4 separate regions of the Homo sapiens genome follow, and regions 1, 2 and 4 are each linked to region 3. Evidence: fine-mapped expression QTL. A gene starts in region 3. Each other region holds a variant in brackets. All regions are shown on one strand. Distances are between the middles of the regions. Region 1 overlaps ASPH (aspartate beta-hydroxylase). Region 2 holds the start of LINC02842 (long intergenic non-protein coding RNA 2842). Region 3 holds the start of ASPH (aspartate beta-hydroxylase). Region 4 has its middle 24 kb from the start of LINC02842.

Region 1 (7,727 bases), 71 kb after region 3:
GGGGCTTTCATGTCTCAGTTGTATGTTGCCAGTGTCACTTTGTTCATTGTCATAGTTGAGGGAGAAGACTTGCAACAAGAAGATGGACCCACAGGAGAACCACAACAAGAGGATGATGAGTTTCTTATGGCGACTGATGTAGATGATAGATTTGAGACCCTGGAACCTGAAGTATCTCATGAAGGTAGAACACTTTTTTTTCAAGTTTTAGGATAAAATATAATCAATGACTTCTAATTACTGAAGTTTTTCTTAAACCCCTTTAAAACTGATATTTAACTTTTGCTTAGATTTTTAAAAGTTGAAGCTTAAAGCTTCAATTAAAGCAAATTTTTTCTTAAAATAGATACCTTGATTTTGGTTCAAAGCACTTTTCAGGGAAACTCAGAATATACAAATTTCTTATAAATAGTGAGTCAAATACTTGAGGAAACTAGTTTTACTATATTCTTCTGCTTAGGGTGCTATTTGTTAAATAAAATTCAAACAACTGATGAAATATTGGACTTGATAATCTATCACAGGCTCATGTTCACACATGAACTCTGTAATTACAGTGAGCAAAACACAATTCTTAGCTTCTGTACCAGGCATTGGCAAACTTTTTTTTGTAAATAGCCAGAGAGTAAATATTTCAGGTTTTCTGGATCGTACAGACTCTGTTCAGCTACTCAACTCTGCCATCACAGCGTAAAAGCAGCCTTTGATAGTTCCTAAGTGGGTCAGTGTAGCTGTGTTTTTATACAACTTATTTGTAAAATCCTACCCAACATGGCTGGTAAGTGCAGCGGCTTGAACACAGCTCACTCCAGCCTTGACCTCCCATGCTCAAGCAGTCCTCTCACCTCAGCCTCTCAAGTAGCTGGAACCACAGGCATATGCTACCATGCCCTGCCAATTTTTAAATTTTTTATAGTGGCAAGGTCTCCTTATGTTGCCCAAGCTGGTCTCAAACTCCTGGCCTCAAGCAATTCTCCTGCCTCAGCTTTCCAAAGTGTTGGGATTGCAGGCATGAGCCATTGTGTGTCCAGTTAGCAAACACTTTTTAAAAGCATAAAAATGAAAAGTAGTTTATCTACTTTGCACAATACTAAATATTTTGGAAAATTACTTTAGCAGCAGGTAGCTCCTACTTTATGAGTACATGTATTTCCAAAAACTTATATCCATGCCTATTGTTTAGAACAGGAAATGCACTTTCCCATAAAAATATGGGATGGTTTGGTTTTCAAAAGAATTGTATATAATGCATAATTTTCTGTGAAAAATACAAGCACACAATCCTTTTGAACATCTATATGATTTATTTTTGCTGCATTACACATTGAAAATAAGCACTTATAGACTACCTTCAGAACTTTATGCCTTTAGTAATCATTTATGTCATGATTTCTTTGGGACAAGGTTTCCAGTTTCTGAGTAGGGATACTGATAAAATGATTTCCACATTTCCTGTTGCTTCTTCTCTCCAGTCTTTGGCCTAAATGGCTCAGTAAGATTGACAGTTGCTCAGAATTTTTCTATCTACATGCTGCTTATACAACAAATTTCAGTTAAGATGCTGAAATAAACAGAAGCATGAGGAATTTGATATTCTTAAAGTTAGGAGTCACAGATTGGGAGTAGGAAGAAACACTTTTAAGAAGTTCACAAATTGCAGAAACCTTACTTTCTGATCTCATCTTTAATTAGGACATAGATGCAGTTTGAACTTAAAAGTTGGTTGTTAAAAGTCTTCAGAAAATAAAAATATTTATTCTTTATATATGCATTAAATAAAATTAGCAAGGTCATAAGTGTGGTGACGGACAGATAGCTCTTCTGCTATCTGGGGTGTATGGGTTAAGTGTTCAACACATTTACCCTTCAGCTCCCTAAGGGTATAAAGCCTCTTCAGCTGTTTTTCTCTGTTCCCATCCATAGTTGCTGTACTTTCGCTCTAGAAAATGGTAGGACAGGTCGAGGAGATAGCACATTCTAGTGGGTTGTGAAGTGGATTAGAAATGAACGGCTTTCCTGGTCTGGCCTGTGTCACTCTAAGTTGTCCTCTCTCTTTAGTCCAGGGGGTGGTGGTTGTCAGCCTTGTGGGGATGAGTGGACTGAGAAGGAGAATGTGTGAGACATCCCACAGTGTACTTCTAGTGAAATATAAAAGTGTTAAGCAGACTTTTAATTGATAGTCCCATTTTTTAATTTTTTAAATAAAATTAATGATAAGCATAGATTCAGAGTACATATACGGGATATATACATACCATTTTGTAAAAGCAGTAAATATCAATCTAATTTTTTTTTTTCCAGAAACCGAGCATAGTTACCACGTGGAAGAGACAGGTGAGATTTTAATTTAATTCTGTTCTTAATTAGAGTGAGTCTTCCTTTAAAAGGGCATCATAAAATACATAATATCTATTATTAATGATATATTTAAATTAATATATGCAAGATATGCAATTAATAATTTTATTACGTCTTATATTTATGGTATTTCTTTGTGAATATACTTTTTTGTGTTTTGATGCCTAGTTCCTGAGGATAAATTTTCAGTAGGATTACTAGTTCAAAAGATACAATTGAATTGCATGTTTTGTACCTTTCAATTACAGAGTCAACGAAAGGTCTAAATCATGTTTTGTCACATGCCAGCGCCCTTAAAGGGCATGGCCACAGGAGGTGGGCGCATCATCTGTCAGCACTTTACTGTTTTGCGGTTTGAGTGTAAACCAGTTGATGACAGGCCCCCCTTACTCATCTTTGCATTTGGCATTTAACACACTTAATACCTATTTGTTTCAGGAGTGAACATGTTTGAATATCATTATGACTTGATTTTGCATTTCAATCATAACTAGAAATTGTGTCTTTCTGGTTTCGAATATTACATGTATTCCTTATTTGAGACGTAATTTCCTAATTATTCCATAATTTATAGTTTCACAAGACTGTAATCAGGATATGGAAGAGATGATGTCTGAGCAGGAAAATCCAGGTTTGTAAATGTTAAAATTATTGATATGTGTTTTCTGATTGAGGCAGTGGCCAAGGCCGTTTTATTCCAGGGTTAACAATTGTGATTCAACACAGAGATCCCTGTATGGTATTTATAATCACTTTTGATTGGTCAGATGTTTATAGAAATGTCTGAATATAGTTTAATACTACATAGAGGGATGAGAGAAAAAGGAGACGTATTTTTCAAACCACTGTTGAGACTTTGGTCTTTGTAGGTAAGGTGCTGGAAAGAATATTTGAAAATTGAAGGGGCAGTATGATGTACTATAAAGTCATTCTGGGTACAAATCCCATTTCTACTCTTTCCTATCTTTTTGACTTAGGCATCAAATTGTGGAACGTTATTCAGCTTAAATTTTATTAAATGATAATGAAAACATCTATCTGGCAAAGTTGTGAAGATAATTAATTTATGAATCTCCTAGAATGCTGTCTGGCAATGTGTTTGGTTTTTTCCTGTTTGGCAAAGGTGTGTTTTTGTTTTTTAGATTCCAGTGAACCAGTAGTAGAAGATGAAAGATTGCACCATGATACAGGTATTAGATGAGCATTTTCATTAGATTTAAAATATTACCTTAGATTTTTCAATCACATGCTGTGTTTACATGGTGATTTTTCTTTTAAAGGCATCAAAGAAGTAATTTCGACATCTAATGCATGAGATTTTGTTTTATAACAAAGTTAGACTGTTATAAGAATATCAGGCTTTCATATTTCACCTCATCAACTAACCATTCCATAACAAAACAGGATGTCAAATTTTAATGCTGTTTTTGTGTATCAAATTCCTCTGTGCCAATTTGAGAAATTTTAATGAAAATAATTTACCTGCCTTTTAATTGCTTTTGGGCAGAGGCATTTATTATTGACTGAGCAGACATTAATATTTGAAGGAGTAGAGTTCTGTGTTTACGATTAAGTAGTATTTTGTTTTAACTGAACAATTGTATAGAATGACTCAGTTAATACTTATTTTGCTTTTATTCTCTTTTTTTTTTCAGATGATGTAACATACCAAGTCTATGAGGAACAAGGTTTGCAAATGCTTTCTTTTTTTTTTTTTTCTTTTTTTTTTTGAGATGGAGTTTCGCTCTTGTTGCCCAGGCTGCAGTGCAGTGGCACAATCTTGGCCCACTACAACCTCCGCCTCCTGGGTACAAGCGATTCTCTTGCCTCAGCCTCCTGAGTAGCTGGGATTACAGGCATGTGCCACCACGCTTAGCTAATTTTGTATTTTTAGTATTTTAGGGTTTATCTCAAACTCCCGATCTCAGGTGATCCTCCCGCCTTGGCCTCCCAAAGTGCTAGGACTACAGGCATGAGCCACTGCGCCCGGCCTGCAAATGCTTTCTAACCTTAAGCCACCTTCTTGTTTTAAAATATACCTATAGTTTGACTACAAGATGTGGAACATTATGCTTTAAACTATAAACTTTGCAACTTAAAACATCCAGATGAACGGTAGCGTTCAAAGAATTCACTTGGGGAGACTGTTTACCCATTCCACGGCTTCTGCCATTGCCTAAATAATTTCTTAAACTCTTTACAAGTTGCCTTAGGAGGCAGTTACAGTCATTCAAGAAAACCAATCTCAGTACTTTATAGTTGTGTCTCTTTTGACTAAAATATGCATGAACAACTACTTTAGCCGGAGTTAAATTGCTCTAGCTGCTTCTACAGGTTAATCCCACTCTCAAAGATGACTGATTTGTCACCTTGGGGAAGGTTAAGAAGCACTGTGTTCCAGGCTTAAAGGCAGTATGGAGAAAACAGTTCTGGCAAATTTGTGGCATCAGCAGCATCTGATTCAGTTTAGGCCTGTACCTCCCTCCTCTTGTGTCCAAGCATTGCATAGACTATTGTGTTGAACTCCATGAAGTAGATTTTATTTTCCCTGCTTCCCAGAGGACAGAAATAAGGTTCTGACATTATAAATAAGCTGCCCAAGAATGTATGGCTAAGAAGTAATAGAACCAATAATATATCCTTTTTATTCCATTATCCTCAAAGATGATTATGTAGAAAGAGAGAAGTCAGTTGGGTATAACTTTATGTGTAAAGCAAGAAC[G/A]ATGAAGAAATACATCGTAATTGAGTTGGTGGATATGGAGGACTTTCTATGTTCTAGATGGTTTTAGGGCCTGGAATTCAATTATGAGTAACATAGGGTCCCTCCTTTCAAGGAGTTTACAGTGTCATGATAGATAGTGAATCACAATTGAAGAAAATTAGGAGTGTTTATAAATATGAATCATATTTATATGATGATTTAAGATTTGAGACCCTACCAAGTTCATCATCTATAGTGGCTATTTCTAATGGGATATGAATGACACCATGGGAAAAATCCTAGGTTGTGTCTTTAAGGTACTGATAATTTTTATGAAAAGTTAAAGAATTTGGACCTGATGTGTTCACAGGAAGATTTGGGGCCGAGGGAAGGTTGGGGAATAATTTGGTCTTGAGATTGCACTTAGATTTTCTTTCCAATCTTGAATTTGAAGGAGAAAATAGGAATTTATAAATACAAGTTGCATGTAATGATGGGATTTGAGATATTTTCCTCATTTCTACTGATCATTATAATGTTTTTAAAAATATAAAGAACATGTTTGGAATGCAATTTGAAGACTAAATCTAGAGGAATTTAAATTCAAACTCATAAGAAGTATAAAATTAGATACCATGCGAAAAGAATGTTATATGTTTTCATAGGGCAGAGTATCATAATAAATGTAATTTAAAATGTTAGCAAAAGGCAGTAAATATAACCTAAGAGATTGACATGATTTGGTAAGCTACTTTGGATTTCTTTGTTATATAGAACATAAACTGTTTCAAACAAATAGATCTAATTGAACAGTGTATTATTCACTATATGCTAAAACAATACCTTTGTGAAAATTCAGGAATCAGAGCAGAGAAACCAAGTAACTGACATGTAAGTGAAGCTGTAAGTAGGGTGAAAACAAAACCACATTTCAATGGGAGAATAGAATATATTCTGTATGAAACTTGCAAACCCCAGAACATACACTTCGATAGAACTATAGTAGGAACCAGCTTCTACATCAAAGATAACCTAGAAATCATCATGCCTACATTGGACAAACCTGGGAAGTGACAGTATGGCCTTACCATGTAATTGACTTATTTATTCATACACTGTTTAGTGTCTTCGGTCTGAAACACAGGACACTGGAGCAGTTCTAGTGAAGAACACCCATGGTTCCTGTTCTCATGGATCTTATATTTTAGTAGGGTAGTAGAAATTAAACAAGCAATTTCACTGTAGTTTTCATTTCCAGTTGTGATAAGTGCTAGGAAGAACAAGTACAGTGGTAACAAGAATATGTAATCAAGAGACCTTACCTAGTTTGTGGATGAGGCAGGGCCTTCCTGAAGTTTGAGCTGAAGGTGAGAACAATTGACAAGGCAAGGAGAAAGGTGACTGGAGAGTCGTATGAGGTCTCTGACGTGAACTTGCAAGAGTAAGGCTGAGGTGGTGAAATGGGCTGGGTTCAGAGGATGCCTGTGAGCAAGATCAAGGACGTTCATCTTCACCTTTGAGCACTGCCAAGTCAGATCTGCATTTTGAAAAGATTGATCGGTCTGGCATGCAACAAACAGACTGGAGAGACAAGAGTCAATACAGGGAGAACAGTTAAGTTAGCTGTAATCATCCAAATTGGGTCTTTCCGTGCATCACATCTCTCTCTGTCTGAAGGAACCAAAGGAGATGAGTTTCAAGAAAGGGATGTTCAGTGGTGCCCTGCGCTACTGAGAACCATGTGAGATGAGTGCTGAAAACCTGCCCTGATCTGGCGCTGCAGTGGCCTCAACGGGTGACTTTAGCTGGAACTGTTTCAGTGGACGGATAGGACAGATATGATAGTTTAAACCAAGGGTGGTGGCAATGATGGAGGAGGGAAGTGGGCAAAGTTGAGAAATGCTTAGAAGGTAAAATTGGCAGGTCTTCATGCATGGGTGTAGCTGGGGGGAGACAACAAGGTGCCAAGAGCCACATACACTCTTCTGCTTCTGCAGCCTGGTGACAGGGGGTGCTCTTTTCCTAACGTGGGAGAGACTGGAGTCAAGCACGGGGCAGGGGCTCATGAGTCCAGTTCTTTACATGATGATAGTGAGATTTCTTTGAGGCATCTGAGAGGAGAGATCAAATGAGCCATTTGGTGGTGTTTGACTCTCAGAAGAGAAGTCTACTTCGTGATTGTGAGTGTGGGAACCATCAGAGTAGTTACGTGGTCATCAGGACCAAGCTCTGAGATCCCTTAAGGAGAGCAGATTGAGGGAGACATGAGGTGGTTCTATGGCTGGACTTTGAAGAAAGCCAGCATTTAAGGACGGCTAAGAAAAAGATGAAGTGAAAAAGAAGATTGAGTGGGAGAAACGAAAAACCAAAGGGGAGAGTATGGTCACCCTGAAGTCCAGGGGCAACAGTGTTTGGAGAAGAATGGTGTTGCTAAAAATATAGCGAGGGCTGGCGAGTGTCCATCATATCAAATGAGGCACTGGAGGGGGTCTCAGCAGGAGCCTTTTCAGGGATGGGGTCAGGGTCTGAAGACAGGCGGGAGTGAGTTGAGGGGAGAGGAAGAGATGAGCCATGAGATGTAAATGACTGAAGAAATTAGATTGTTCAATGGAAGAAAGAGAGGGTGACGAGAAGCAAGCTTAAGAAAGAGTGGTATTGCATTTTTAAG
Region 2 (7,727 bases), 74 kb before region 3:
TTTGCAGCAGTAAAGTAATCAAACAAGAATGCCATGCCTCTATTAAGCATTTACATTAGGACTGCCTAACTACACCAGGATTTGTTTGGGTAGCACTGGCAGATGTTCTGAAAGACTGTGAGAAAGGCAGCTGGGGCTTCACAGAAAGCAAACGCCCACCTAGGACCATTCTAACATTAGTGCAGGGAACCTGAGTGCTTGTGTGGAGCAAGACATGTGCTGGGTTCTTCTTAATATAATTCCCCACAGTAGATTTTCTGAGCACCTGCAATAGAGGTATTTGTTCTCCATCTGCCTCAGAAAAATATTGAAAGAATTCACAAAGAAAGCCGGGTGTCGTGGCTCACGCAGGTAATCCCAGCATTTTGGGAGGCTGAGGTGGGTGGATCACCTGAGGTCAAGAGTTGGAGACCAGCCTGGCCAACGTGGTAAAACCCTGTCTCTACTAAAAATATAAAAATTAGCCAGGAGTGATGGCCGGCGCCTGTAATCCCAGCTACTCAGGAGGCTGAGGCAGGAGAATCACTTGAACTCAGGAGGTGGAAGTTGCAGGGAGCCGAGATTAGGCCATTGTACTCCAGCCTGGGCGACAAGAGTGAAACTCCATCTCAAAATAAAAAAAAAAAAAATTCACAAAGAAAGTCCAGAAAACATTGAGTTTTTTTGCAATGAAGTGTTATGAAAATAGATTATTTAAATTATCAATGGGTTTTAATCTTATTTAAAAATTAGTAAATCCATTAGATTTTCATTGTGCCAGCTGACAGTGTATTTTCTGACTTTTTTACACAACACAAGGCATAAGATTTGAGAAACTATGAGATTCTGCTTGTTTTAAGCCCTGGTGGTTCATAGTTGAGTGTGAGGCAACCTGGCAGCCATATCAGTGTAACAAAGGACTGAGCAGACCCGGGCTCTGTTTTCTATGTTTCATCCCACACCGGCATGCTTGAAGGGGTAGTTGTGGGCCAGACAAGTGACAGATGGCACATTTGCACCAATCAGATTTGCCAGTGCAGGAGGTTCTCCTCTCACCGCCATACCCAGGAAACAGGCCATGGCTCCATGTCCATATGGGATCGCTCCAGGAGTGCAGGCTTTAGGGCACAATTATTTGGATGAACAGGTTTGGCCTTGACTCTGAGTTTGGGAAATGTCGTGGATAACCCACAATTGGCTTACTGTAGTTCTGAGTCATCACTGGACATTTCCTTTCTCTAGGAGATAGCCCAGGGCATTAAAACTACTTTCCACTATCAGCAGATCCTGGAAATAGCCCTGAGCCTCAGCTCTAGTTCCTCTCAGCTGCAGTCTGAAAGCAGCCTGCTTTTCCAGGACCCCAGAGAGAGACACACTCATCTGTGTCCCCCAAGGGTCTGTGCCCTGCAGACCTCGGTCTCATTTGTGGACCCTGTAGCAGCCCTGTGACTCAGGTCGAGCCCCTCTCAGCCATGGCTGAGGGCCAGCACTGCCTGCCCAGGGACCCACCCAGTGACCCAGAGCAAACCAATCCAGAAACCTGGAGGAAGCCACACCTATCCACATACCAGGTTATAGGACTGCCATCTACAGACTCAGAAGTAGACCCTCATTCAGCACCAGCCCTACTGGCCATGCTTCTGGGGGCAGCCCAGTCCACCCAGAGCCCAGACAGGATCCATGTTTGCTTGAGCCCGGGTAATAGGCTCACCTACCTTATACCTCACTATGCACTCAGTAGAAGCCACATGACCTAGCTCTAACCCTGCTCAACTGTGATCCCAGAGGAAATCTCAGAGTCAGCCTGGGGACCTAATAGAAGAGGGCCTTTATCTACAGAACCATCTATACAGACTGAAAGAGGTATTTGGTACTTGAAATGCATAGACAGCAACACAAACCTACACAGATCATATGATCCAGCAATCCCACTTCTGGGTATGTATCCACAGAAAACGAAATTAGTATGTTGAATTAATATCTGGTTTGATTCCATACCTTGGCTATTGTAAATAATGCTGCACTATTTACAAGAGCCAAGGTATGGAATCAAACTAAATGTTCATGAATTTATAAATGGATGAAGAAACTGTAGAATATTACTGGACCATAAAAAGGAAGAAAATCCTGTCATTTGCAACAACGTGGATGAAACTTGGGGACATTTATGGTAATTGGGATAAAAAAGTCACAGAAAAAAATGCTATATGGTCTCATTTATATGTGGAAATACTATATGATATCACTTATGTGTGGAATCTAAAAAAGTTGAACTCAGAGAAGCAGAGAGTAGAATGGTGGTTGTCAGGGGCTCAGGGATAGGGGAAATGGAGAGATGTTGGTCAAAGGGTACAAAGTTTGTTATAAGATGAATAAGTTCTGGCTGGGCGCGGTGGCTCACGCCTGTAATCCCAGCACTTTGGGAGGCCAAGGCGGGCAGATCACGAGGTCAGAAGATGGAGACCATCCTGGCTAACATGGTGAAACCCAGTCTCTACTAAAAATACAAAAAAATTAGCCGGGCGTGGTGGCACGTGCCTGTGCAGGAGAATTGCTTGAACCCCAGAGATGGAGGTTGCAGTGAGCCGAGCTTGCACCACTGCACTCCAGCCTAGATGACAGAGTGAGACTCTGTCTCAAAAAAAAAAAAAAAAAAAAAAAAAGATGAATAAGTTCTGGAAATCTAATGTACAATCTGGGAACTACAGTAAATAATACTGCCTTGTTTACTTGAAATTTGTAAGAGTAGATTTTAAGTGTCCTCACTGCATGCACGTATACACACACACACACGCATAGAAAAGGGTAACTATAGGTGGTGATGGTTACATTAATTAATGGTTGTGGCTATCATTATACAGGTACATGTATATCAAATCATCACATCGTGTACCTGAATATATATAACTTTTGTCAATTAAATTTTAAAAAACTACTTTCCACTAGAACCAAGAAATCCCAGCACTGACTCCTCCTTTCTTTAAACTCAGATTATTCCTGAAAAAAAAAGAAAAATTAATTTTATGTCTAGAACAATGAAATCATCCCTTATTGGTAGCTTTTGAAAACATCAGAGAATATAATCCTGCTTCTTCCAACCAACTTTACCATGTTGCTAGCTTTCTACTGCCACCCTTCTATCCTGTTA[T/A]ATCCTGTTGTATTTCTCCCCCTTCCTACCCCACCCATAGACTCACTGTTTACCTGATTTTATAGGAAATAAAAAGAAAATTCCTTTAAGATTACCTATAATCTTGGTCACCATAATATCCCCAGAATCTAGCACACTGCCAAGAAAATAACAGGTGCCTAATAAATGCTTACTGAATAAATTTTGAAAGGCCTATGTGACATCAAAAATAAGCATAAAGGACCAGGATAATCTATGTAACATAATGCATACCCCAAAAGAGATAAGCCATGTTAAGAAAAATATTCCCTGTGTTAAAGTGTTACAATGAGGATCCCCAATGAATCAGACCTCCCCATGTCCACACTCTTTCACAATGTGTGGTTGCTCTTCTTCCCATCAAAAGGTAGTCTATTGCTCTGCTGCCTTGAATCTGCCCTGACTCCAAATTTATTTGGCCAACAGAACATAAAATAAGGCATCCTATAAATCACAAAGCCTAGTCCTTCAAAGATTTGGCAGATTCTGCTCTTGCTCTCCTGGAAGCCTGCTACCAGTACATTGTGGAGAAGCTGACTCTAGCCTAGTGGAGGATGGGAGGCCTCATGGGGAGAACAAAGTGCCATAGTCAACAGCCGGTACCAACTGTCAGGCATGTAAGTGAGGCCAGCCTGGCCACCAGCTCCAGTCAAGCCATTCATGATATGCAGAAGAACCACTTAGAGTGCAAACCCACAGAATTATGAGAAAGAGTAAACCACTGTTGCCTTGTCAGAGGGCAGACACCCAGCAATGGAGCACTGAAACACTCTATCGTGTCCAGGTTGCCAGTACCTCTCCTCCCACCACAAATGCCTGAAGCCCAGTGTCCTTGTGAGTAGGATGCGGCTACTGTGTTAGGTTCAGAACATTCATCAGGCTCTCCCAACCAGCCACTGCTCACAATCCACTTGCTCTCATCCATTTTCCTAAAATTCTGTACCTTTTCCTTGAACCTGGATCCTCCCACTCTGTCTGGCTGTCTCAAGCCAACTGTTCCATGATCTACCTGATTTTCATCTGAAATTTCTCCCTATGGACCTCCCATTTATGTCACCCTCCTGGGCTCCAGAAAGTGCAGGCCATGGAGGACTGGCCCTCTTCATACACACCCATCGAAACTTTGAAACTTCCCATTGAACCTGACCAGATCCCTGGGACACACAATGCCCAGGACCCTGGCTCTTCAAGAAGGGGGCTCATATGAATATGTTAACTTGGGATATTTTGAAGGAAGAAAGAAGAAAAATGAGCTGTGGATAATGATAACTCACCTAGTGGAAAAATAATTGTGAAACATGATCTTGAACACAAAGCTATCCCCTCTTTCTATGTTCCCTTGGGGACTTTACTATTATTTGTACTAAATTCTTAACCTTTATATCTGCAAATGCTCAACAGTGATTTTTCAGGAAGCTTTTTACCAATTGATTATGCTGCTATTTATTATTCCAGGCATTTATTATTCTTGACTGTTTACTTGGTTCTGTAGTGATAGTTACAAGCCAAATGCCTTTTGACCTGGGTCTAGAGTTTTCTATGGTGACATTGTGTGCTCATTAGTTTTCTAGGAAAACTCTGGAAAGATAATTGTTTCAAGCTCTTTTTAGTACCAACAGTCATTATCTTGTTGGAATCCCAGCTGAAAATAACAAGAACCCCTTCCAGAGTTACACCACTCACCTGCCCCCTGGCCACTGCTACATAGGGTTGTCCTATTTGAATCTTTCACAGCATAATCACTGCACCTGCAGACTCAGCAGCTCTGCCAGTGGCAGCCCAATGTGGCAGGTGGCAGTGGCAATCCATTTGTTTGCTCTTCCTGGCCACTAGCTCTCTCTCCAGGCCATGGGCTCTTCCCAAATGTTCACTTGCAACCCAAGGTAAAGATTTAGGCTCTCAACCAAGCACTGACCTTTCCTTGAGTCTTACTCCTTGACTGCCACTCTCCTGAAGAGTGATGGAGGCTGTAAGTTTTCCTAGAAAAAAAATGACTCACTCATTGGCAATTATCTTCCTACAGAGATATCGTGCCTCTGTGCCAACAACAAAGGAAAGGGTGTGGCTCAATATTCACCAAATCTAAGTGCTTCTAGGAGAGTGCACATCTCCTTGTAGTTTAAATTTTGACATTATAATATTAAATAAATAACAATCCTTATGAGGACACCTGCAGGGATAAGCCACAGGGATGGTGCCAGTATAAACATATTTCCTTGGCTCTAAATTTTGGTGTTCTCTGTAAAAGTATGTCTGATTGTGCTATAATTAAGGACTAGGTAGGGGAGGAATGGGTGGGAGAAAATGAGAAAGGTGAGTTTCTCTCTCTTTCATAGTCCCAAGATTGGCACAGAGGAAGATGCTGTGATCTCTACCTGTCTGATGCCCATATTTGATCAAATCTGCTGTGAAGAGGAGGCACTGGGGCAAGGCACCAGGGAAAGTGAAGTGTAAGTCCCACCTAAGCAGATACACCTGGAGCATCTATCCCCAAAAAGGGGCTCCCATCCTCCAGGATGTTGACATTTTCTGGGATACTATAGGTGGGGTAAAGCAAAAATTGCATGAGTTTTAGAGTCAGAAAGACTTGGGTCCTCATTCACCTTCTGCTTCTGATTATAGGGCAGTGTTTTCATATTTACAATGTTACCTTGCAATGTGTTATGGGAATGGGAATTTAAAAATGCAAGTAAAGTGATAAAATATGGTAGCTATTATTGCATCTGTAAATCATTTTATGAACTAATCAGTTTGTGTTAAATATAATTCACAAAACTAAAATGCATCCTGTAATGATTTCTCCATGGCTTTTTTAGCTCTCTCAGGATCCTAAGATATTTTTCCAAAACACTTGCTCACCCAGCTTAGTTTATTAAAAAGATAAGTATCTAAAGCAAACTACACCATTATGTTACCCCAGAGCTTACTCTCAATACAAAAAAAAAAAGTTCTTACCTCCCAACCTGTGCAGTTGGTTGTCCACGACTCTACTTTCTTGAGAAAAGTGCTGCCAAAGGGACCCCAGGCCTCTATAGGCAGAGTCTGCTATGATCCAGGGATGCATTAAGGAGCAGACTCTGCTCTATGCTAAAGCTGGACACAAGGATAACTATGACCTCATAATGCTGAAGACCACTCCAGACTCTTCCTAAACTTCTAGATCTGATAACATTACAATAGTATTAACAACCACCACTGTGTTTTGAGCACTAAGTGTCAGGCATTCCAATAAAAGTTTTATGTTTATGAACTTTTGTTCTCTTAAGAGCCCTGTGAGATGTTACTACTCTTCTTTTATAGTTAGATAATTTACAGTTTAGATGAGTTAAACATCCAAGGCCACAGGGCTAGACAGTGTAAAGCCAGGAGTAAAATACAGGCTTTTAAGGCATTTTATTCATATTTTCTAAACTTTTTTTTCAGCAGTTAAAGCCTTTTATCTAAAGAGTACCCAGCTTCATAATAAATAGATTGACAAACCCAGCTGGTGTGGTTTAAGTCGTGTGTGGATGCTAAGAAATCCCCCACAGAACCCTGGGATCTGTAGAACAAAGTGAAAACCCCTCCCTCACCCTGGGATCTGTAAAACAAAGTGAAAATCACTTCCTCACTACGCCATCTCCAATGATGTGCATGGAAGTACTTGGAGGGGTATTAAATGCCACAAACTTCATAATGAAACATCTAAAGTAGCAGAAGTGCTGCAGTGTTGAGAGTCCAGCGGACTGGATGGTTTCCCACTAGCAGTTTAGTCAGAGCCTGCCCCTTCCCCTGCATTGGGTCAGACTATGGTGCCATTTCTAGTGATGACAGAAGGCCCTTTCATCTAGTCTACAAGAGAGGAAAAATGTGGATTATCCACAGAGATGGTTAATCTTATGTGTCCACTTGACTGGGTTAAAGGACACTCAGATGGCTGCCAAAACATTAGTTCTTGTGTCTATGAGGGTGCTTCTGGACAAGATAAGCATTTAGATTGGTGAGCTGAGTAGCACAGATGGCCCTCCCCAGTGTAGGTGGGCATTGTCAAATCTACAGAGGGCCTTATGAGAACAGAAAGGTGGAAGAAAGTTGAATTCTCTCTTTACCTCACTGCTTCAGCTGGGACATTAATATTTTCCTGCCCTCAGCCTTCCTGGTTCTCAGGCCGAAAGATCCAGACCATCATGGACTATCTACACACACACTAGTCTCCCCACAGAGCCGCTCCAGTGGTTTAACACAATAGGACCACCACCCAGAAGGAACGCAGACCCAGCTCATCACAAGCATCACTGCAGATTTCTAGTGTCCCTCGTGTAGCACTGAGTTGATGCTGCATTATTCAGCCCAGGCTTTTACTCAATATTGCCAACTTTTTACTTGACACTTCCATCATTCGTGGGTCTTAGTGGTCCATTTCAACCATTGCTTCCATTTTCACTGCTTTTCTTAACTTCAGCATTCCAACGTTTGATGTCAGAAATGGTCATTTTCTCAGAAGCTGGAATTTACAGATTACCTTTGAGAACTGTCAGTTTGCTGAAAAGTAGCTCTGATTCTCAGGGAAGTCCAAGAGGATTGAGCACTGTTTATTTGATAA
Region 3 (7,727 bases):
AAAAGGGAGCCAGGTGAGACTTTCTCCACTCAAAACTATGTCTTATCCAGGAGGAATAATTTGGAGTATAGACTCTGGAGCCAGTCCAACCAAGTTCACATCCCTCCTCTATCACTTACTAGCTTTGTGACTGTCCCAGCCACTCCAGCTGTGGCTGAAAGGCTCCAACGTACAGCTCAGACTGTGGCTTCAGAAGGTGGAAGCTCCAAGCCTTGGCAACTTCCACGTGGTGTTGAGCCTATAGGTGCACAGAAGTCAAGAATTGAGGTTTGGGAACCTCCGCCTAGATTTCAGAAGATGTATGGAAACGCCTGGATGCCCAGGCAAAAGTTTGCTGCAGGGACAGGGCCCTCATGGAGAACCTCTGCTAGGGCAGTGCAGAAGGGAAATGTGGGGTCAGAGCCCCCACACAGAGTCCATACTGGGTCACTGCCTAGTGGAGCTGTGAGAAGACTGCTACCATCCTCTAGACCCCAGAATGGTAGATCCACTGACAGCTTGCACTGTGCACCTGGAAAAGCCGCAGACACTCAATATCAGCCCGTGAAAGCAGCTGGGAGGGAGGCTGTACCCTGCAAAGCCACAGGGATGCAGCTGCCCAAAACCATGGGAACCCACCTCTTGCATCAGAGTGACCTGGATATGAGACCTGGAGTCAAAGGAGATAATTCTGGAGCTTTAAAATTTGACTGCCCCACTCGAATTCAGACTTGCATGGGCCCTGTAACCCCGCTGTTTTGGCCAATTTCTCCCATTTGAAATGGCTGTATTTACCCAATACCTGTACCCTCATTGTATCTAAGAAGTAACTAGCTTACTTTTGATTTTACAGGCTCTTAGGTAGAAGGGACTTGCCTTGTCTCAGATGAGACTTTGGACTGTGGACTTTTGGGTTAATGCTGAAATGAGTTAAGGCTTTGGGGGACTGTTGGGAAAACATGATTGGTTCTGAAATGTGAGGGCATGAAATTTGGAGGGACTGGGGCAGAATGATATAGTTTGGCTGTGATCCCATTCAAATCTCAACATCAAATTGTATCTCTCAGAATTCCCATGTGTTTTGGGAAGAACCCAGAGGGAGGTAATTGAATCATGGGGGCCGGTCTTTCCTGTGCTATTCTCGTGATAGTGAATTAATTCTCATGAAACCTAATGGGTTTATTGGGGGTTTCTGCTTTTACTTCTTCCTCATTTTCTCTTGCCACCTCCATGTAAGAAGTGCCTTTCACCTCCTGCCATGATTCTGAGGCCTCCCCAGCCATGTGGAACTGTAACTCCAATTAAACCCCTTTTTCTTTCCAGTCTGGGATATGTCTTTATCTGCAGTGTGAAAACGGACTAATACAGTGACCCTACTTTGTTTTATCTCTCTGAGCTTCCAGTATCTAATTTCTTTAAAAAATTGATATGACTACAGGGTTTTGTGAGAATTTAAGGGTAAAAATATCTTTGGTGTGGGGGGTGGGGGGTGGCTAGAGCATTGTGTTTTGAAATTTAGCTCTCATTTTTATTTTATATGAAGCACCATCACTCAGATTTATTTCTTAATCCAGTTCTCCACCTCCTTCATTGAGATAATATAATAGAGGGTTGTAAGGGGGCCCTGAATGGGAGAAAGGATATATGGATGCAGAAGGAGATGCCACAAGATAAAAGCTGAGAGAGCTACTTCAATAAAAACTCTGTGAACTCTCCCCTCCCACCGTCTCTTGATAATAGCCTAACACTATTTGACAAAAGGTAAAGAAAGGCATTCTCTTTATTCTGCAACATGACCTTTGGGGGGTTTCTGTGCATCATCAGGGCAGGGTCAAGCAGCATCCAACCATCCACAGGTGAAAAGGCATGGGGCCGGGGGGAGGCGGGAGTGCTTCTGAAGGCGCGGGTGGGTGGGTTTGTGGGGCTGGAAAAGAGGAATGAAACCAGATGCCACAATGCAACTGCTCTCTCTGGTCCCTGAGCCCTCCTGAGACACTCCCAGGGGTTGCTACGAAACATGATCAAGAGCTGTGGGTTCAGCAATTGACAGAAATGTATCAAATCACTAAGCATTTCTTGCTTGCCTGTTACACATTGGGCATGGTGTTAGCAATGGTGACACAAAGATGATAAAGACGTCGCTGATCTCAAGTCCTTGTCTGGTTCAACCACGTGCCAAGACATTTTAATACTCTGTTGGGAATTCTCAGGCAGCACAGGCCCAGGCGTTAGCAAAGCAGCCAGGGATTTCAGACAGAGGGTGCCATCCAGGGTAAGAAAATGAACTTTTTGTGTCACATTTGCATTTTCATTCCTTAACTAAGAGTATCTGAAAATACTGATGGCACAAACGAACTAAATTCCTGCTTCAGCACCAAATGGATGAACTACTACGGTTTAAGCATTGAACTAGTCCTAATATCACCATTCCAGAAATGTCTTAGTATTAATCAGGACAAGAAATAGGGATCTCTTTCGCAAGAAGCGAGACTGCACTCCTTCCTTTCCTTGTATACGGAAAGGGGACAAAATCCACAGTGAAAGGCCTAGAAGCGGCGCACTCCGCCCACGGGCGGCCCACGTGTCCACCTATTCCGCACCGCGCCCTGTCCCATCCCTATGGAGCGGGGTCTGCCAACGCTCGCGAGAGCCCTCTCGGCTTCCACGTTTGCCACGTTCCAAAGGACCGAGACAAACTGGAAAGCCGAAAGAGGCTCGCGCTCACAGGCAGCTGCGTAGCGCCCGAACAGCCCTAAGTGAGCAGGGGCGGGGAGCGCGGCAGGGTACCGCCGCCTCGTAAGGGCCCTTGCGATTGGGTCCCAGGCGCCGTCACTCAGCCTTCCGGGGGCGGGGCGAGGCCGGGAAGGGGCGTGGCCGTCGGGCGGCGAGCCGCGCGCTCTCGCCCCGGGAGGGAGTCACAGGTTCGTACACGCGAGGCCGGGCGCGCGCAGCCGGCAGGCGGGTGAAGTCTTCCCAGGTGCTGCAGGCGGTGCTGAGGCACAGGGTCTGCTGCAGGAGCAGCGGCCCGAACCCGCTCCAGCGGCCCGCCGCCGCCAGCGGTTCCCGCGTCGCGTGTGTACCCCCGCGCACTGAAGGAGGTCCGCCAGCCCTCACCAGCCCCCGCGGACCGTGCAATGGCCCAGCGTAAGAATGCCAAGAGCAGCGGCAACAGCAGCAGCAGCGGCTCCGGCAGCGGTAGCACGAGTGCGGGCAGCAGCAGCCCCGGGGCCCGGAGAGGTCAGAGGCCCTGCGGGGCGGGGATCTGGGGCCTCGCCTCGGGGTAGGGAGCCGGCTGGCGCGGCGGACGCTGCGGGTGCATCTCCCCAGGTCCCACCGCGCGCCGCCTCCATCCCCCGCGACGCTCCTCCTTTAGGCGCGCGGGGCGGAGGCCGCATTCGGCGGGCCTGGCGGGCGGGCGAGGGGCCAGGCGGACCGGGGTCCGAGCCCTCGGGATGCTAGTCTCGGGGAGCCCCTTCCCAGCGGTTCCTTCACCTGCAGGGCGCAGCCGAGACAGAGGTTGCTGAACGACTGTTTCTTGGCTTTCCGTGGAATTGAACATGGGAGTAAGAGAACAATTTATCGTTTGCCTTGCGTGTTTTGGGGAGTTGAAAATGAGCCAAAGTCAGGGAAAGTGAGTTCCTGCCTAACCAGCAGCGTTTCAGAGCAACTCAAAGGAGGTGAAAATGGGGGCGCCGGGGGGCAGGGGGAGGGAAGAAGTTGGGAGTGATTTGAATGCTCTCAGAAATTATTTTAAATATTTTTGCTTGTATGTAGCTTTCTTAATATGCGTTGCAGTTGCCTTTAAAATAGAATGTCATGAAATACTGAACGAGCGTCTGTATTTTTACCACTTTTACTTAAAATAAAAATCGATTGGATATTCACCTTTCTCCTCGTCCGTGTGCATATCCAGCAGAGAGAACAGATTTTTAAATCTGTTTCGTCTCATATTTCAGTGATTCTTGGTTTCTTTTATACTTCCTTTGACTCATATTTGGGATATTGAAACTGCAATACACATGTGTATGGAATGTGAGCTGTAAACTTCACTTGAAGTGATTTAGACTCTTTGTTTTCTGAGATCTTCAGATCATGCATTCATAATATACCAAGAAAATGAATCAGCTATAGTCAAAGAAGTATTTTCTTTATAGCACTTGTCACTATCTGAACTTGTCTTATTACTTTCATGTGTGTTGTCTTTGGCTCATTCTCTCTGTATCCCCAGCTCCTAGAATGTTCCTTTCCCATAATAGGTGCTCAATAAATATTTGAGTAGTGAATGAATGAATGGATTTAAATGGGGAAAGTAGTGCATTAAATCCATTGCACAAATTTACATTCTAAGGACTAATATTTGTATTCTAAAAGTAAAGATGTAGACACAGTTTGAAGTTCAATGCAAGCATATTAATTCACCTTTGACATAAGTGAAAGTTTGTGTTCCTTTTTCACTTGTTCTTAAATGTCACTTACTTAAACCTGCAGAGGGATAGATTAATTGCCTCAGCCGACTGAGGCTACTCTTTTTTAACATCCCTAAATGAGAATGGGTTCTTCTCATTGTGCCTCTAAGGGCACTAAGCAGAGAAAGCTGATGAACAACTTTAATGTTAGTTGTTTTCAAAAGGTTTCTGTAGCTATTTGCCAGAGAAGCATGTCTTCGTTCCATTTCATTTTTGTGTTTATGAGGAGAGGGCTGATTGCATCTGAGGGAAGTCACTTTATATGGCCTCTTATTGGTGAGAACTAATACTGGGAAATGTGTCTCACGTTTCTAGACCTACCCCATAACTATTTGAAGCATTTTAACAGGCAAGAGATAGGTTTAGAAAATGCAGTAACTTAAATTAACTTCTCCTGACTTTCATAGTCAGGCATTTTAGAACAAACTCTGCCCATATTTGAGGATCTACAGCCTTTTAAGCATTTTACACGTTGATTCTCTAATAGTCATGAAACAGACATAGTATGTAAAAGAATATGTAAAAGGGAGGAATGCCCGTGATACGAAAACAAAAGTTGATATTGGAACCCTGCATGTGACGTAATGAGTATTCTTTATCCGCATATCCGCAACCTTTTCTTTTTTTTCTCCAGTAGATACTGAGTTCTTACTGTGTGCCAGATAGAAGGCACTGGGTATGGAAACCATTTCCTTCCATCACCCTAAACAGTTAAAGTACAGTGTCGTGTATAGTAGGCTGTACTCGAAAGATAAAGCCGGCTTTTCTTTTAATGCTGTTTACCTGGTCATTAAAGTACGGACGTTGTGCGAACCATTTCCTTCTACTGGGAAAATCAAAGACTTTTTAGCAGTGTCATACTGTGAGACCCATTTAGTTTCCTGCTCAAATCATACAGATGAGGAAATTAATGCCCAGAGAAGTTGCCGAGTTCATTGAAGGTTGTTTAGTTCATGGAAACTCAACTAATTACTGGAAGAACCGAGACTAAGAACCCAGGTTTTGTTATTCATTTTGCCATGCTTGAATTTTAGGTTCTCTAGTATGTAATTGGAGTTGAACTAGATTATCAAGTTTTCTTCTGGCTGTCTCCATGAGTACTACATTTAATTATTGGAGAAAACTATGCTTTTGTCCTATCACCAATTACATTTCCCTTGACAAAAATTCTATTTGAAACACTATTTGAAATTTTAGTTTGAGAAGAAGTATATGTGTTCAAATAGTACGTTTTTTGATATGTCTTACATTGAGAGTCAGAAAATGACGGCATTGGTCACATTAAACATTATTATTTCTTAAGTTGTTGTGTAAACGTATGGGGAAAAAAGAACCCAGTCATTTGAAACATGCATTTTAGGGAAAAGGTGATTTCTTTTTTTTTTCCTGGCCAAACTTTATCTTGGTGGTTTTTTTGCTGAAAAGTGATGTTTGGAAGCTGGAATTTGGGGAATTTATATCACAGATTTTTAAAGCAAGTGTCTGCTTTTTATTTTCTTCAGCTTAAGCTGAAAAATGATAAAATGGTTTTCTACAGAGTTCAATTTTACTTTTTTTTCAGTTTTACTCTTTATAATATAAAAGAAACATGAATAAATTAGACTTCCTACCTTTATTTTGCATATAGAACTGGACTTGCATGGCCAGTTGGGCCCAGGGGAAGCCTTTTTCAAATTTATTGATTTGAAAATAGTTTGACAAAGAAGGATCATGATGTCCTTTTGGGCTTATTTTGTAGACACTCGTATGTGTAATGTTTTCTGTTTGTTTGTTTAGTTTTTCCCTTTTGAGTATCACCCCTTAACTCCCTGTATCTCCTAGCAGCTTTCCATCTCCCTGTTTATTTTGTCTGGGTGTCCTGCTACTACATTAACTTTTGCCACTAGGTGTCACTGTAGAATATATCCCCCTTTTAGTTTGAAGCTTGGGGTTATGTAACAGCAGGTTTTAATTATTATTTAATCCGTCTGTATATACTCAAAACTATTGATAGATAAGCACTTAAAAACTCTTAGCTACTTTTTAACTCTCTCAAGGTGTCTCAGTAGATTGAGCAGCCTTTTTGTTTAGGCTTAATTAGAATGAAATATATTCCTGTACTGCCTGTAAAACATTAACAGCTTCATTTGATGAGTATTTGTCATTTAGAAACACACTTCTGAGTTTAGTTTAGCTTCCTTTTTCTTTCTACTTTGAGTGTCTCTTAGATTACTAAGTAACTGAGGGATTCAATACACTGCTGATTGCATTGTGGAGCCCTTGAATGAAGAGGCCCTAGCAAAATTTTCTTTCTTTAGCCAAAGACCATCAGAGCCAATTGCTTAATCCTCCATTACTCATTCTAAGATGAAAACATAGGAGGACCATAATTCTTCCACTGCAAGAACCGTCAGCTATTTTGTGTTCAGTTCAACAGCATTTTGTCCATCCTGACCAAATCATATGAAACCAAGCACTAAATAATGTTCTGAGGGAGTTTATGAACACATTTTCCAGAGACCAGTTAACCTCTGGTGGTCTGTGGAAGTGAAAGTTCTATATTTTGGACTATATTTTAGTCTTGCTTTAAAATAATCTGTCTCATAGAGATTATTAGAAAATGAATGTATGACATTTTCATTTTCAGCCAGTTATCAACAGAGGAACTTGGATAAAGGCTCATAGGGTCTATCCATCTTGTTGTTAGTTAATATCAGATACTTAGCCCCTGAGCTCTCTGGTTCCAATAGAAAAACCCTTTTCTCCAGAAAGCTAGTGCAGTTTGGGAGAAGGAATATGATGACCTGGATCATATCTGTGTAAGAATCAGAACCAAGAATCGCTAAAAATCTCTGTTCCCAGCCTCCTTAAATGTAAAGAATTATTATCTACTTTCTTTTCAGAGTTTTGATATCACTAATGCTGATTTCATATGGCTTTGTGTTTCTCAGTTGTTTCCGTTAAAGTACGTCTAATAGTAGGGGTGAGTGCAAAACTTTGGAGACTATAAAAGTGTAGATGTCATCAGGCCATTGCATGCTTTGACTTTTTTGATGATTTATTCTTATTTATTTATTTATTTTCATGTTCCATAGCATCTTTGTGTTAAGTAAAATGTATATTCTTGAGATAGAGTTTATACTATGCTTTGAGGACTGCTCGATACATTTCTCTCAGCTTCTGGAGGTGTAAGTATCCATTTGCACATCAACTTTCAAGTTGGTGATTTGCCCTTAATGGCTCAGAAATCTGTAACATTATTTTATCTTACCCAGGCTCAGATATATTTAGTCTTTTGAGGTA
Region 4 (7,727 bases), 47 kb before region 3:
ACTGGCTTCTAATATAAAATCATCTCTGTAAAAAGGCTACTTACCCTTCTTTCTGCAAGGAAAGGAAAAGCCTAGACACAAGAAAAACCATTTCTCTCTCATGTACACATCCACATGTACTCACACTCATACATACTTGCACACATACACTCTTACACACACATGCACATGCACATACATATTCACATACATAAAAACAGTCACACATGTGCACAGTACAAGAAGAAAAGAAGGGGTCTCCTATTTCAAGGTCATCTCTCTCTTAGACAAGGCAGAATCACCTCCTGAAGGTTTCTTTTCTTTTTTGTTCTAATGTGTATCTCTAATAGACAATCATGTTTATGTTACAATTTTCTCAAAGTGATCATTGCAATTTCAGTTTGACCATGGTGGAGTCATGACAGAGACATGCACTTAAATGAAAGCTTTAAGGGAGCAGGTGTTTGTCCCAGAGGGCCAAACACATTGAGTAGAGCCCATGAGAACTACAGCAGACAGTAAGAATGGGTCTTGTACCACTTCTTATCTCTAGCATATGGCCACAGAGCAGTCATCACTGATAAGAGGCCCAAGGAAACCCCCAACAGTGGGCAGAAGAAACTAAATAAAATATTTCTCAGGGATGCAAAGACAAGACAATGGAAATTTCTTACAAGTTTTTGAACAGTATCCCAAGCCAAAGTTTGTCAAAAAATTATCAGTCTCATGAGACTGAACTCGTCAGTCTTGGAGTGGTCTGAAAGACGGACTTCGAGAGCCCGTGTGGTCCCTCTCTCTAGACTTCCTCCTGCAGACTCACAGGAGAAAGGGAGGAGTGTGGACAGCAGGAAACAGGGAGGAAGTGTTGGTATTTAGGCAGGTTTTCACCATGAATAATAATTTTCAAATTTAATTATCTAAAGGAAGGATACTTAAAATGATTCCTCATTCCTAGGAGAAAAAATGAATTTATTTGAAAATCAACTCAAGCAAGAGCAAATAAGAAATCAGGAGATCAGACATAATCAGGGCCCTACCTATCTTACGGTTGGAGAGATTTCTGAGTGGAAGGCTCAGAGGCCCCAAGGTAGCACCCTCTCCTGAGTGAGGAGTCTTGAGCCTCAGCAGCAAGGGGGAATTTAGTGAATCTCAGTGGTAGTTTAAGTATTGTTGAGTACTGACTTCCCAAAATATCACCAGAAAAATCTGCTGCTCAAACAAAGCTAAGTTGGTTAGGCTTGCTGCAGTAAGGGAAAAGACTTCTTTGACAGCTTTAGTAGTGAATCAGAAGGGAGAAGTCAGGGGAGAATATTAATAGCATTTGGAGGGCAACTCTGAGTTGGATGATTTTCTGCAAAGCAAGACTCTAGTTGGGATTGGGAAATGTATGTCATAATATTTTTGAATGGGTAGCTGTAGTGAGGAGAGGGTCCTTAAAGGCTATTGATGAATAAGGAGTTTGAATCGGTTCACTGTCTTGTCTTTCAGGAGCCTTATTTCCAGGAGTAAGTAGCTACGTTGTTTTTGCCTGATCACAGTATTATTTAGCACATGAATGAAAACTTCATTAGTTTTGGTTTTCATAACATACAATGATATAGAGGTCACAAGTATGGGCTTTGGCGGTGTACAGCCGTTTTCAAATCCCAGCTCCTTAGTTTACTAGCTGTGTGCCTGGAGCCACTGAATCACCTATACTTAGTCTCAGTTCTTTCATCTGCCTAATTATGTCATGTATTTGTTGACCTATTTCTGACACTGTTTTCATCATAACATATGTATTGACAGTTTCAAACACTGTTTGCAATATTTTATTTAATCCTTTACAATAGCCCAATGAAAAAATACACTCAAGCCCTTTTGCTAGATGAGGAAACAAAAACAGAGAAACATAGAGGCTAAATAAATTTCCCATCAGGAGACAAGTAAGTGGGCAAGCCATGACTTGGCCCCTGGTAAACTCTGGAGATGTCACAGTGAATTGCTATGCTATATGGCCTCCTTCAGGCTCATTGGGAGGGTTGAATGAGAAATTCAATATGCAGCAGGTCTTGGAACAGTGCCATTTGTTCAACGTGGTTTTGTTATATGACTGGGCCCTGCAATAGGATGGCCTCCTGGCCAGGGTTAGGTCCCTCTTTGCACTCTGAGCTGTCAGAATAGGCTCTGGCCACCCGTGACCCTGAACTGCAATAATTGGGTAATTATCTTCCTTGTTTTTATTAACGTTTCTTAAATGTATGTATAGCTCACATTTATTTTAGCTTTAGTATTAGAAGTGTTTAGGGGGTCTTTATTTTGAAGATTGGTGAGGTCTTCGTGATGTTATAGAAACTTAACTCTTGTTTATATCAATTAGCCTGTGGGAAAATTGGTTTCATTATATGTCATGTTGCTTATAGCCAAAGTTTCCAAGAAACTATCTAGGACATTAAATGAGAACTTAACTGTGTAACACTTAGTCCCTGGCACATGATAAAGGGTCAATGTTAGCTGCTACTATTAAACTATTGAAATGAAAATTCAGTAATAGTGTAAAGTCAAGAAAAGAACAGGATGCAGAGAATGCTTATTTTCTGACTTAGAGATTTCTGAAGGTGCAAAGTGTAAAAGTCATGACTATTCTGTAAAAATAGAAGAAAAACTTTCCCCATAAAGTAAAAACTGGTAGCATCCAATATATTACAGTCCTTCTCATTGTACCAAGTGGTCAGAGATTACAAGGCTTACAGAAACTTTGTATTATGCACCCTCTTGCTGCCTCCACTGGTGAGACAGTCAAGTGTTAGTCTTCCAAGTTGAAATGGAAAATAGATCGTCTCCATGGAATATATCAGTATTTTCTCTTCATGTTAAGTCTTAGTTCCAAACCACCTCCCCGGACAGTCGGAAATCCCACTGGCTGGAGGAATAAATAAATTCCTTATCTTGTCAAGGAAGCTCCTCCCAAGCTACAAAAGTTGCAGACAGCAAAGGGATCAAGTGACCCCAGAGATGAAATCTGTGACTCTCTGGTGGAGCAACATGATAGTAATAAACAAAGGTTGAGTGCCTGCTGTATAAAGCAACCTCTGGAGTGCCTGATATCTACTAACTCTTTTAGCACCCACTCGACCCTGTGAGATGCGTATTACTTTATTGTATCTACCACTGTAAAAAAGAATGAACCAAGCTACAGCAATATTATGTTGCTTGCCCTGAGTCACACAGCTGAGTAAGTCACAGGAGTTTGTGCTCATAATGACTTTGCTATGCTGATGTTTGAACCTGGAACCATTCAGCAACCCTCCAGCTAATATGGCTCCATGCTCTACTTCTGGAAAAGCTGAGTTCCTGCAGCCTTGTCCTACATCACCCAAAAGAGCTGGAAAAGAATGCAGTGAGTTCCATTCTATTTGTTCCGAGAATAGGAAAGCCACATTGAAGCAATATCTTAAAGAGAAATCTATAGTTAGGAGTGATGAAGATTTGAAACAGATGTCAGCAGAAAGAAAAAGGGAGAGGCACCATGATAATTATACTCAGTGATGCTTTTTAAATGACATATATTCAGTTAAATATAGGGAGGTTTGCTGCTAGCCATATGAACAAAGCACAAGAGAATTCCTGGATCAAGGCAGACTTAAAGAGACATTGAAAAAAAAACAAAATTCAAAATTTTGACCTAGTGCAGGAAGAAGTGCAAGTACAGGGGAAGTGGAGGGAAGGAGTGGGGAGGCTGGCACAGAGATGGCACGGGCAGATACGAGCAGATTGACTCGCCAGGACTGTCATTGGGCCACCGCTCTTAGCAGGAATTTCACCATTGAATGACCTAATTATTGTCTTGGGAAAAACACAAGAGCTCCTGTCCATAACAGGATAACAGATGTATTTCAGTGGAGCACAGAATAGGCCGGATGGTGACTAGCAAGAATAAAAGCCCAAGTGGACTGAAGAATCCATCCAAGATATGGTCAGGACGGGCTTGTGGAAAACTTGTGCAATAATGAGAAGAAATGTTATTTGTCACTACCTTTTTTAGGCAGCTGTGTGGATAAACCTACTTTGGGGTAGGAGCTGAGCCTCAGGCCTGTGACCGCTAGAAGCCAGACTTGAAGCCAGGAAAGAGGCCGCTCTTCCCAGGAGTTGGGAGAATTTGACTTTGGTGTAGAATCCAAAAGGCGGGAGAGAGGGTTCCAGGGAGGAGCTGGGGGTGGAGGCTAAAAAAGGAGCCCTGGTTGCCAAAGCCAGGAGGTGACTTTACAGGA[G/C]AGCAGCAGTGACTAAGCCAGGAAGTGACTTTGCGGGAGAGCAGCAGTGACTAATTCAGGAGGTGACTTTGCGGAAGAGCAGCAGTGACTAAGCCAGGAGGTGACTTTGCGGGAAAGCTGCAGTGATTGTGAAGTTGTTCACATACAGGGGGTCATGGGACACCCTCTACGATCTCCCGTGGGAAATCCTCAGTAAGCACTCTCACTCTAGCAATAAGCACTCTCACTCTAGAAAGCCCTTTTGGTGCTTCCAGTCACATTGCCTGGCCCACGCTCGGTGAGAGCTCACATGCGCTTCTGGTCCTGGCCTTCTCAGACGCCACAGTAGCTGCCCACCCTGCAAAAGACCTGGAAGGGGAGGGGAGCCTGTGCCACAGCAGCCAGAGGATGAATGTCCTGTCATGAACAATTCCTGGGGGCACTATGTACATTTTGTAGAAGTCCTGCCAGAATGGAACCTTGCTGTCTACAGCAGCGACCTTGATAACACATCATTTGATTTTTCCTCCTTTTGTGACTCATGCTTCTGCTACCTCACCCTGGCTTCCTGAGATCACCTCCCAGATGAACTCCCTGCACTGAATTCTGGTCTCAGTTTGCTTTGGGGAGAACTCAAAACTAAGACATTCACCACTGTGTTTGTGTGAGCCAAATCTTCACATCATGAGCAGGCGCTATGTCTGCGTTCAGCCAGACAAACAGCAAACCAGCAACTGCCCACATGAATACAGTCCATGGACAAGAGGAGAGTGATAGCTGAGCGACTTTGGGACTTGCTGTCAAAGATACCTGTCTCCCTCTCTTTCATTCTCTTTACCTTTCCATCAGACTATGTGGCTGCCTCATTCCCCCGTGTCCTGCAAGCAAGGATATTAACTATACAAACAGTCCAGCTTAAAACAAAATGGGCAGAATATTTGAATAGACACTTCACAAAGGAAGACAAACAAATTACCAATAAGTGTGTTAACAATTCTTAACATCGTTAGTCATCAGGGAAGTGGAAATTAATACCACAAGGAGAAATCACTACACACTAAAGTGGCTAAAATGAAAAAGAGTAATGACATCAAATTCTAATCTGAGTATAGAGCAACTGTTGATGGAAATATAAGATGGTACAGCCACTTTGGATATAATAAAATGATGCAACCACTTTGGAAAAGTTTGGCAGCTTTATGTAAAACTAAGCAAATACCTTTGGCCCAGCAATTCCACTCAAGCAATCCTTCCCTAAAGAAATAAAAATATATATCCGCCAAAAGATTTGTACAAGAATGCTTCTAGCAGCTTTATTTATAATATAGGATTCAAATCCAGGTCTTTCTGGCTCCAAAGTTTGTTCTGTTAAGTATCATGATATATTGGTTTAAATAAATGGGGTCATAATCTTTGGAAAACAGTTTAGAAGTTTTACATAAAAATCAATAAAGGCCGGGCACAGTGGCTCATGCGTGTAATCCCAACGCTTTGGGAGGCTGAGGCAGGTGGATTGCTTGAGTCCAGGAGTTCAAGACTAGCCTGGGGTTTATGTGAGACCCTGTCTCTATGAAAAAAAACTTAGCCAGGGATAGTGGTGTGTGCCTGTGGTCCCAGCTACTCAGGAGGCTGAGGCAGGAGGATTGCTTGAGCCCAGGAGGTCAAGGCTGCAGTGAGCCATTATAGTGCCACTGCATTCCAGCCTGAGTGACAGAGCAAAACCCAGTCTCTTAAAAAAATTATTAAAAGTAAATAAACAGAAACAAAACAGACAAAAACTCAATAAACACTTTTGGCCTAGCAATTCCACTCAATAAGACTTCCCCAAAAGAAACGAAAACATATAACCCAAAAAATTCCTGGAGGCACTCTGTATGTTTTACAGAAGTCCTGCCATAATGGAACCTTGCTGTCTACAGCAGCAACCTTGATAACACATCATTTGATGGGAGACTGAGGCAGGTGGATTGCTTGAGTCCAGGAGTTCAAGACTAGCCTGGGATTTATGTGAGACCCTGTCTCTACGAAAAAAATAAAAATAAATAATATTACAAAATAATATTCATTGCAGCTTTATTTATAATAGAAAAAAAAGAAAGCAGTCCAGATATATACAAAGTAAGAGAATAGGTGAACAAACTCTAGCATATTTATATAAACTAATTATACTCAGCAATAAGAAGGAACAGTTACTCTCATATACAACATGGGCAAAATATGAAAACATGCTGAGTAAAAGGAGCCTTATAAAAAGAGAGCATACTGGATTTCACTTACATGAAGGTTCTAGGACAAAATAAACTGATCTATATACCTGAGAAAATGAAAACAAATGGTTGCCTTGTTGAGAGTGGGTAAGGACAATGGTTAACTAGGAAAGGATAAGGGAGAACTCTCTGGTGTGAAGAAAATTTCTGTATCTTGGGGTTTTGAGTTACATAGCTTTCTGAGTTTGTCAAACCTCATAGAATGGTACATTTAAAATTTGTGCATTTTATTCTCTGAATTTTACCTCAAAGAGAACAAAAAGAACTGTAAACAAATATTGAATTCTAATAAATGATACATTAACTAGATTACATATATTGATGATTAAGTATTTAGTAGGAAATATACTAATGTCTACCATAAAATGCATTAAGAGTGGATTAATGTGTGGCTAGAGAGGTGATGAATTAAAGGTAAAATGTGAATTATACAGTCTACAAGTTGGTGTATGGGCGCTCACTATCCTTTCAATTTTTTTTTTTTTTTTTTTGAGATGGTCTTTCTCTATTGCCCAGGCTGGAATGAAGTGTCACAATCATTGCTCACTGCAACCTCCAACTCCCTGGCTCAAGCCATTGTCCCACCTCAGCCTCCTGAGTAGCTGGGACCACAGGCACATGCCACTATGCCCAGCTAATTTTTGTATTTTTTGTAGAGACTGGGTTTCACCATATTGCCCAGGCTGGTCTCAAACTCCTGTACTGAAGCAATCCTCCCACCTCGGCCTCCCAAAGTGCTAGGATTACAGGCATGAGCCACCACAACCAGGTTCTTTCAGTTTTTTGATAGGCTTGAAATTTTTCATAATACAATGTTCAAAAACTCAGGAATGACAACAAAGAAAAAAAGAATGCTTGCTGTTATTGAGAAATTACTGTGTCATGCTCTCCGTTAACATCATAATATCTTGTTTTTAATCCTCTCAACATCCTGTGGGGTAGCTATTACTATCCCCATTGCCCTCAGAAGAAAACTTATGCCCAAAGAGGTGGAATTAACTTTTCCAGGATCCAATGGCAGAAAATAAAGTGATGCAACCACTTTGGAAAAGTTTGGCAGCATTACATAAAACTAGGCAAATACTTACTGACCAACAATTCCACTCAAGAAATCCTTCCCTAAAGAAATGAAAACATATATCCACCAAAAGATTTGTACAAGAGCACTTGTAGCAGCTTTATTTATAATATAGAATTCAAATCCAGGTCATTCTGACTCTAAAGTTTGTGCTGTTAACTATAGTGATATACT

The links.
Region 1: its variant is fine-mapped to the expression of ASPH in whole blood (TOPMed, PIP above 0.99).
Region 2: its variant is fine-mapped to the expression of ASPH in whole blood (TOPMed, PIP above 0.99).
Region 4: its variant is fine-mapped to the expression of ASPH in whole blood (INTERVAL, PIP above 0.99).

Annotation. Positions count from the first base shown.
Region 1 is chr8:61,639,207-61,646,933 of GRCh38, reverse strand. ASPH (aspartate beta-hydroxylase) reads left to right here. Exons shown (of 25, transcript NM_004318.4): 6 at 56-184; 7 at 2,302-2,334; 8 at 2,933-2,989; 9 at 3,501-3,548; 10 at 4,014-4,046. Among named protein-coding and RNA genes, the nearest start is that of ASPH, 72 kb to the left of the region's middle. The variant G/A (reference allele first, on the strand shown) is at 5,081.
Region 2 is chr8:61,783,530-61,791,256 of GRCh38, reverse strand. It overlaps LINC02842 (long intergenic non-protein coding RNA 2842), which reads right to left and starts at 6,210. Exons shown (of 5, transcript NR_187554.1): 1 at 6,101-6,210. The variant T/A (reference allele first, on the strand shown) is at 3,128.
Region 3 is chr8:61,709,758-61,717,484 of GRCh38, reverse strand. It overlaps ASPH (aspartate beta-hydroxylase), which reads left to right and starts at 2,893. Exons shown (of 25, transcript NM_004318.4): 1 at 2,893-3,216. The coding sequence starts at 3,114. It overlaps MIR4470 (microRNA 4470), which reads right to left and starts at 2,697; the gene lies at 2,626-2,697. RefSeq lists silencers at 2,684-3,053, 3,094-3,523.
Region 4 is chr8:61,756,874-61,764,600 of GRCh38, reverse strand. No RefSeq gene overlaps it. Among named protein-coding and RNA genes, the nearest start is that of LINC02842, 24 kb to the left of the region's middle. RefSeq lists an enhancer at 3,625-4,824. The variant G/C (reference allele first, on the strand shown) is at 4,230.